2 linked regions of the Homo sapiens genome follow. The protein of the gene in region 1 purifies or fractionates together with the protein of each later gene. This does not show direct contact. Each region holds a gene or a part of one and is shown in the gene's direction. Other genes may lie near its edges.

The links. The genes of interacting proteins can lie anywhere in the genome.
Region 2: the proteins of RPS6KC1 (region 1) and CA10 purify together in Homo sapiens (co-immunoprecipitation; one large-scale study listed by IntAct). This does not show direct contact.

Annotation. Positions count from the first base shown.
Region 1 is NC_000001.11:213,049,918-213,054,040, forward strand, and holds the start of RPS6KC1 (ribosomal protein S6 kinase delta-1), read left to right. Parts: upstream 1-1,323; 5' UTR 1,324-1,487; coding exon 1,488-1,592; intron 1,593-4,123. UniProt on the Homo sapiens protein: May be involved in transmitting sphingosine-1 phosphate (SPP)-mediated signaling into the cell. Plays a role in the recruitment of PRDX3 to early endosomes.
Region 2 is NC_000017.11:51,742,715-51,746,214, reverse strand, and holds part of CA10 (carbonic anhydrase-related protein 10 precursor), read left to right. Parts: intron 1-3,500. UniProt on the Homo sapiens protein: Does not have a catalytic activity.

The DNA of each region.
Region 1 (4,123 bases):
AAACGACTCTTTTGCCTCAGCCTCCCAAGTAGCTGGGATTGCAGGCGCCTGCCACCACGCCTGGCTAATTTTTTGTATTTTTAGTAGAGACGGGGTTTCACCATGTTGGCCAGGCTGGTCTCGAACTCCTGACCTGAGGTAATCCGCCCGCCTCGGCCTCCCAAAGTGTTGGGATTACAGGCGTGAGCCACCGCGCCCGGTCGGAGAACAGGGACTATCTTTGTAACTCCAATGCCAAATTGGCATCATGTCTGGCACATAGTAGGTGGTGAATTCAGGTTTAATGAATGACTAATAGACTTAGATATATGTAGGTTGAAAAGAAGGAGCCAGTGGTGAGAAAGAGATTAAACATACAGAAAGGAGATTTGGAATGTCATTGAAACAGTGTCTTAAGGTTTGCCAAAGAGGATGGGATTCAGATCACATGTGGAGTCATTAGCTGTAAAAATGAGCAAGTGATATGTGTACGTTTCAGACTGGCATGGAAATGTGAGAAGACAAAGGAATTGGTACTAAGGGCCATAGCTGCTTCTTCCTCTTCTTTTTTCCCTGTAAAGAAGAGTGGTGGTGCGGAGAGTAGGGAGGCAAAAGGAAGAGGAACAGAGTCTTTAGGATAATGGCAAAGACTTGGCATGAATATTTTGTGGAATGAAAAGGAACCTTGATCACAAAAAGATAAAGGAACTGCCAAGCGTTGATAACAACCTCAGCTGAAATTGGAAACTGTAGTGAGTGACTCGGAGAGGTCGAGTGACATATTTCTTTCTTCTAGCCAGAGGCGGACTCCAGATTTTCGAACCTGTGGGGATTTTTAAAAGATTGATATTGGCTTGGGAGCTTTTTTGGGTTGGGGGCTTGCTGTGCAGATGTGTTACAGAAAGGCGCTCAATGGAAGGAAATTCGTCTTAGAAAGAAGTAAGGGATATGTCTCAGAGAATGAGATGTTGCTGTGGGTATTTAAAATGATAGGCTGTGAATAGGTAAGGAAAGAAGGTGCTAGGCTATGGTATCTCTCCATCCCTTCAACACTCCACTTAAGTTTGTACCACGGCGGGGCGGAGGCAGGGAGGACCACGCTCTCCCGGTGTGGCGTGGCTATACCAACTCTCATAAAATCTCATAAAAGGTGACGGAGCTAGCGTACAAGAGGTCGTCTTTAGTGGAGAGGCCTGAGGTCTCCGCAGTGACGGGGGTGGCAGCGCGACCCCTTAGTCTTCAACTACAGGCCAGTCCCAGGTGCCCCAAAGGGGCTAGAATCTAAGGAGGAGTCTCCCCTCCCCCTAGAAGCGGGAGATAGCCTGGCCCGGAAGCTTCTCTGCTGACCCGGAAGCAGAGCTGTGCAGCTGAGGCGCCGCCGTGGAGCCGCCTTGGAGCCACCGCCCCCTCGCCGCTTCGCCGCTGCGTTGGGGAACCTGGACCGCGGCGGCGCCGGGTTTCCCTCATGATCCCGGGCGGGTGGCGGCGGCGGCAGAGGCGGCGGGAGGATGACCTCTTACCGGGAGCGGAGTGCCGACCTGGCCCGTTTCTACACTGTCACCGAGCCCCAGCGACACCCGAGGGGCTACACAGTATATAAGGTCACCGCCCGGGTGAGTGCCGGTGTCGGGCTGGGGTAGAGCTTGGATTGGGACCTGAGGATCTGGGGTGGGGACCCTGATGTGAGGGTACCTGACTCTGGCTCAGAGCCGAGGGTGGGACTGGGTGCTGCTCCTACTGGCGGGACTTGGGTGTCGGAGGTTGGGATTTTTAGAGTAGTGGCTGAGTGTGATATGCCCAGGGCTTCACTGTAGTAGGTCGTGGTAGAGTCCTCTTTCTGGGGGTGGGGCAGTCAGTGGTTGATGGTTTTAAATTGATGACTCAGTTCCCATCCCGTTTGGACTTTCTCTTCTGAGTTCGCAATTTGCAGAAGTGGTTTTGCTTGCTCCAGGAAGATAATGCAGATTAAAAAGTGTTAATTTATGTATTGTTTGGCTTATGTAATATAAGTTGTTTTTTCTCTTGACCTTTATCAGGTTTGCTGTGAGAAAGACAGATTCTTGGGACAGATGTCAGTGTTAGGCCACCAACCTAGGAACTGTGGATCCGGGCTTTGTCAAACCTTTGAGTTTTTCATGTTTTTCAGTAGGAGACGTGAAAAAAATCTGCTGAGGGTGGCTTGTGTGAGCTACCATGAGGGCACATTTTAAAGTTGGGAGGCTCCTTTACATCAACTAACTGGTCCAATTTTTAGTACCCACTTTATGTTTCATTGCTTTTGCCTTGAGTTTTAAAGAGAGTCTGCATCTTCTAGGAAAGTAAGAATAAATCAAAATTAAATAAGTATATATGTATGTGACGTATGTGTGCATGAATATATGTGTATAGTAGGCATTTTATGCACATCACCCAATTTAATTCTCATTTTAATGAGGAAGAAATAGATTAAAGCAAGTTTAGTAACTTGCCCAACTTTACATTGCAAGGCAGTAGCAGATCTGTCTGGGATCTGAAACCAGTTTTGCCTAACTCCAAGTTATATAAAATGTTAATAATTAACTTTATCAATTTTTAAAGAAGAGAGGTACAGATTAAGTAACAGTAGTTCAATATACATTTGGAGGATGTAAAGCAGGCCTTCAGAATAATTTTTTTTTTTTTGAGACGGAGTTTCGCTCTTGTTGCCCAGGCTGGAGTGCAATGGCATGATCTCTGCTCACCGCAACCTCTGCCTCCTGAGTTCAAGCGATTCTCCTACCTCAGCCTCCCGAGTAGCTGGGATTACAGGCATGTGCTACCATGCCCTGATAATTTTTTGTATTTTTAGTAGAGATGGGGTTTCTGCATGTTGCTCAGGCTCATTTCGAAGTCCTGACCTCAGTTGATCCGCCTGCCTCGGCCTCCCAAAGTGCTGGGATTACAGGCATGAGCCACCACACCCAGCCTGAGAAGAATCTTAAAGGTTAAATAGATCAGTTTGGGGCATGGGAGTGGCACGTGATGTATGGAAATGGTGCACAATTCAGATAAATGTGAGAAGGAGGGATAGATGAACATGTCTGTATAAAGATAATGAGAAGACCTGACCTGCTATTGCCGATTGCTGTTCGGAGAATAGAGGGATGTTTGTTGCTCCCTGCTTGCACTTAAGGTTGTTACATGGGTGGAATGTTAGTTTCAGGTTGTGTAAGAAATTTTGTGAGAGTGAGGGGCCCTTATTATACCACTCTTGAAACCTTTCTAGTCATTGGGCCCTTTGAAAATCTAGGCTTAGTTTCCTAACACATAGTGTATGGAATCAGAACAGTTTTCAACATACGTAATGTTTCTCTCACAGCATCCTACTTATCCGTTAATTTAACAGGAAAGTTATATTGTATTAATTTAGTTGCATGTCTGTGTCTCTTAGTGGATTTAGAGCAGTTCTCTATCATTGGCATTTGTTTCTGCTTATATCAAATAATAGATAAAAGAACATGCATGTGCATGGCACACAGTGCCTGAAAAACATTGTTGAATGTTTTCCTCTTCATTGTACGGAGCACACCCAATAAATGTTTAGATCCAGGCACTAAATACTGAGGGACATAAGGCTGAATAAAGCAGGGATCTTTATTCCTTTCAAGGATACTCATAGTAGAAGAGAGTTTAGTATACTTAAGTGTGATATAACACAGGAAGTTCCAGCAGACACTACAGAAAAGGGCTGTGGGAAGACAGATTGCTTCTGGATCAAGAGATTGGGGAATATGTACCAATCAAGATAGTTGAAAGAGGGGAAGAATCCAGAAAAGGAGAGGGTATGAAAAGGTAGACAGTTGAAGGGGTAGAGTCCATAAAGACCTGGAGGTATGAATGTGTGTGGAACTGGAATTGGAAGCACTGAGTATAATTATTTGTATTGTTACTTTACAAAAGGAAAGGTTAACCAAATTCAGAATTTTTTTTTTTTTTTTCCAAGGCGTAGTCTCGCTCTCTTGCCCAGGCTGGAGTGCAGTGGCGCTATCTCAGCTTACAGTAACCTCGCCTCCTGGGTTCAAGTGATTCTCCTGTCTCAGCCACTCAAGTAGCTGGGATTACAGGCGCCCTCCACCATACCCGGCTAATTTGTCTATTTTTTGTAGAGACGAGGTTTCGCCTTGTT
Region 2 (3,500 bases), on another chromosome or scaffold:
AGTGTGTGCTAGAGAAGCTGCATGATTTCATCTAGCATTTTATCTGTGATCTGTTAATCATGACTCTATAAACAATAGGGTTGAGCTGTAGTATGGGTCTCCCTCCTGGATCTGTAGGGAAAAAAAATACTAGGATTGATTAGGGATGTCTGCCAAAGGCATTGTAATGCCAGGCTCCCAAGTTGCAGATTCTGAACTAGAGTACAACAAGAAATGTAATGAAAGCAGGACAGAAAGTCACAATTTGAGCATAACTGGGTACTGCCGGTCTGAATTAGAGAATATTCAAAATTAGATGAATTCTTCCTCTTAAGTTATTTTAAGGTTTGTAATTATTTTATCTGTTGACTTACTTGCTCATTTTTTTGTTTGCTGTTATTTCTTTTTCTCCCCCATATTCTGTCATATTCCAGCACCTATCACAACACTGCTTCAGAGTAGAAATATTTGTTAAATGAATAATTGATAAAATGTAGATGTTTACTAGGCTAAAATCTTTACATTGTATTATTCTTTAGTGACACTTGTTTCTTCAGTATATGATAAGGGTGCTTTGTAACTTATACGTGAACCACAATTTTAGAGTAAATGAGTGCTTCCAAAATCCTTAAGGGAAACATATAGTAATTTGATCTCTTAGTGTATGAATTTTCCTAGACCTACACCAGACCACAGGTATCAGGTGCACCAAAGAATTTGCATTTTAAAAGTTCCCAGGAGAGTCTGACGATTAGGTTTGTGAAGCACTTCCACAATGGTACATTATTATGTGTTCCCAGTGAAGAAAGCAATGAGTGAAGAAAGCATGTAAGCAGGGTTGCAAATCACAATGAACTGGGAAGCCTTGTCAAAATATTTTCCTCTCAGTCCTTCCCAAAACCAACTGAATCAGTCTCAGGATATAGGATCCAGGTTTGTACATTTGTAAAACTTTCCCCAAGAGATTTTGGTTAGCGACCACTGTGACAATTTTAGGTGAAACTCCGCCTGAATTATCCCAGTTTTCTAAACAAAGGGGACTTAATCAACAAAATCACACTGCTAAAAAGGGGGGAAGGCACACACATTGGTAATTGTCCCCTGGAAATGGCAAGGCTGGGATGCTATCTAGACTAATGAGACTTGGAGAACAGCTTCCCAAGTAGGGTGGTCACACACACACATCCACTGCTCCAATGTAGGCTTGAGCACTGGCCTCAGCATAGGTATAATCTACCTTGCCCTGGGTAGATGCAGTCATCGTATCACATTTCTTTCCAAGCCTCTCAATGTCAGGGGTCTATAGACGAACTGGTATGGGTTTAGGTGCAAGAGACCAGAATTTCAGAGTCCCCGAAACAATGCTATATGCAAAGTAGTGCGATAAGCAGTTGACTTTTGAGATCCCATTTACGGATTTCAGCAAGCAAGAAGAGTTTGGCATCTTCTGTGTAGCATAAGGGAAGACACCTATGGCCAATGGGTGGTAGCTACAAAAAGATGGAATTCAGCTGCATATGTGTTCTAACGATGAAAACGATACAGTGATGAAATGAGTTTGCCTCTGAAAATTGTGACTTCATATTACTGGAATTATTTTATTTATTTATTTATTTATTTAGAGAGAAAGGGTCTTACTCTGTTACCCAGGCTGAAGTACAGTGGTAGCACCATCACAGTTCACTGTAACCTCTAACTCCTGGGCTCAATCAATTCTTTTGTCTTGGCCCCCCCACAAAGTGCTAGGATTATAGGTGTGATCCACTGCACTCAGCCCCATTACTGGAGTTATTAAGCACTGAACAGAATTTGGTGACTCCATAAAGGTGACTCACATTCGAATGAGCAGGGGAAACTGTCAGTTTTAATGTATCTTCTGATGCTGAAATTCTATACAATCCATAATTTTTTTTTTTTTTTTGAGATGGAGTCTCGCTGTGTCACCCAGGCTGAAGTGCAGTGCCATGATCTCGGTTCACTGCAACCTCCACCTCCTGGGTTCAAGCGATTCTCCTACCTCAGCCTCTCTAGTAGCTGGGATTACAGGTGTGCACCACCACACCTGGCTAATTTTTTTCAGTACAGGTGAGGTTTCACTATGTTGGCCAGGCTGGTCTTGAATTCCTGACCTCAAGTGATCTGCCCACCTCGGCCTCCCGAAGTGCTGAGATTACAGGCGTGAGCCACTGCACCAATCCATGATTTTCTTATAGAAATTTCCTTCAATTGTATTCTACTGAGGATTAGCCTCAGTAAAAGTCAACATATCTCACCCTGAAGGTTAACTTTTTAAAAAATGAATTTCAACTTTTATTATAGATTAAAGTGTACACATGCAGGTTTGTTATGTGGGTAGATTGCGCGAATCTGGTTAACTTAATTTTTATTTTGTGCTACCTTCAAAGCCACCTTTGGCCTCTATTTTTGGCTATCCTTTGAGAGGACCCAAGTAGACACTTCTAGCAAGAAAGCATGTGTTTATTTTGTTGACAGTGAATGATCACATTGCCATCTGCCCTATCTATCACTGCTGATCGTGATAAGTCAATTAATGCCAGGCATTTTCCTTGGCACAGTGCAACAGTCGTTATCTGAAGAGCTATAGATTAATTGCAGTCTTGTCTAGTGAGGTTATTGTAATTGATGGTAATCATTTGCTTTGTTTTATAAAGCTGCATGGATGTATGACATAGTCAGCAACTGCATTTTTATAAAAATTACTCATGTCCTACACAGAGAACTCCTGGATTCCTTGTTGGGGATTGGTGATAAATGAGCACATTCAGGGATTCAAATGTCTCCATTTCTTTAAGAAGGAAAAATGAACTGTTTTTAATAAGTAAGACCCTTAGCTTGCTAATCATGTCTAAATGGTTAGATTAATGTCCAGTATAAAGTAGGATATTTATGAAAAGAAGAAAATACATTAGCCAGGGAAAAAATAATATTTGAAAAGAAACATGCCTTAGATTCCATTGCAGTAGTGGGGGCTGGACAAGAAGAATCTTCCTGATTTGGGATACATTAGACAAGTTCATTTAAAAATCCTTCCTTAAGTTCTTCTTTTCAAGGGGGCAGAAGGGTACACGGAGAATTGTACCAGCCACTTCATGCAAGATCTATAGCCAGTTCCTCCTGTTAATTTCATCCACTCTTCACATGCTCTTGTGCTTCTGCCATGTGGTGGGCTCCGAGCTAGGCATGGGCCAGAGTGCAGCTTCTGCCCACAGATGTGTAAAGTCTATTGAGGGATGTATATTGATAATACCACATAATGTGGATTATATTTGAAGCTTATTCCAGAAGGGGATTATGAAATAGCTCTCACTAGATAGCATTAAGCAAAGAATGGGTGAGCAGCTGTGCAACCTGACCCACTTGCTGCTCCCTCTGACAGCAAGATAGAAACACCTTGACCTTGCTAGCTCTCAGCCTCTGGAATCTCTGATCCTGCTCAAAACACATCTGAGAGAGGGAAAAGTCCATAGCTGTTGCTATGGTGATATAGATAGGATGTGTTT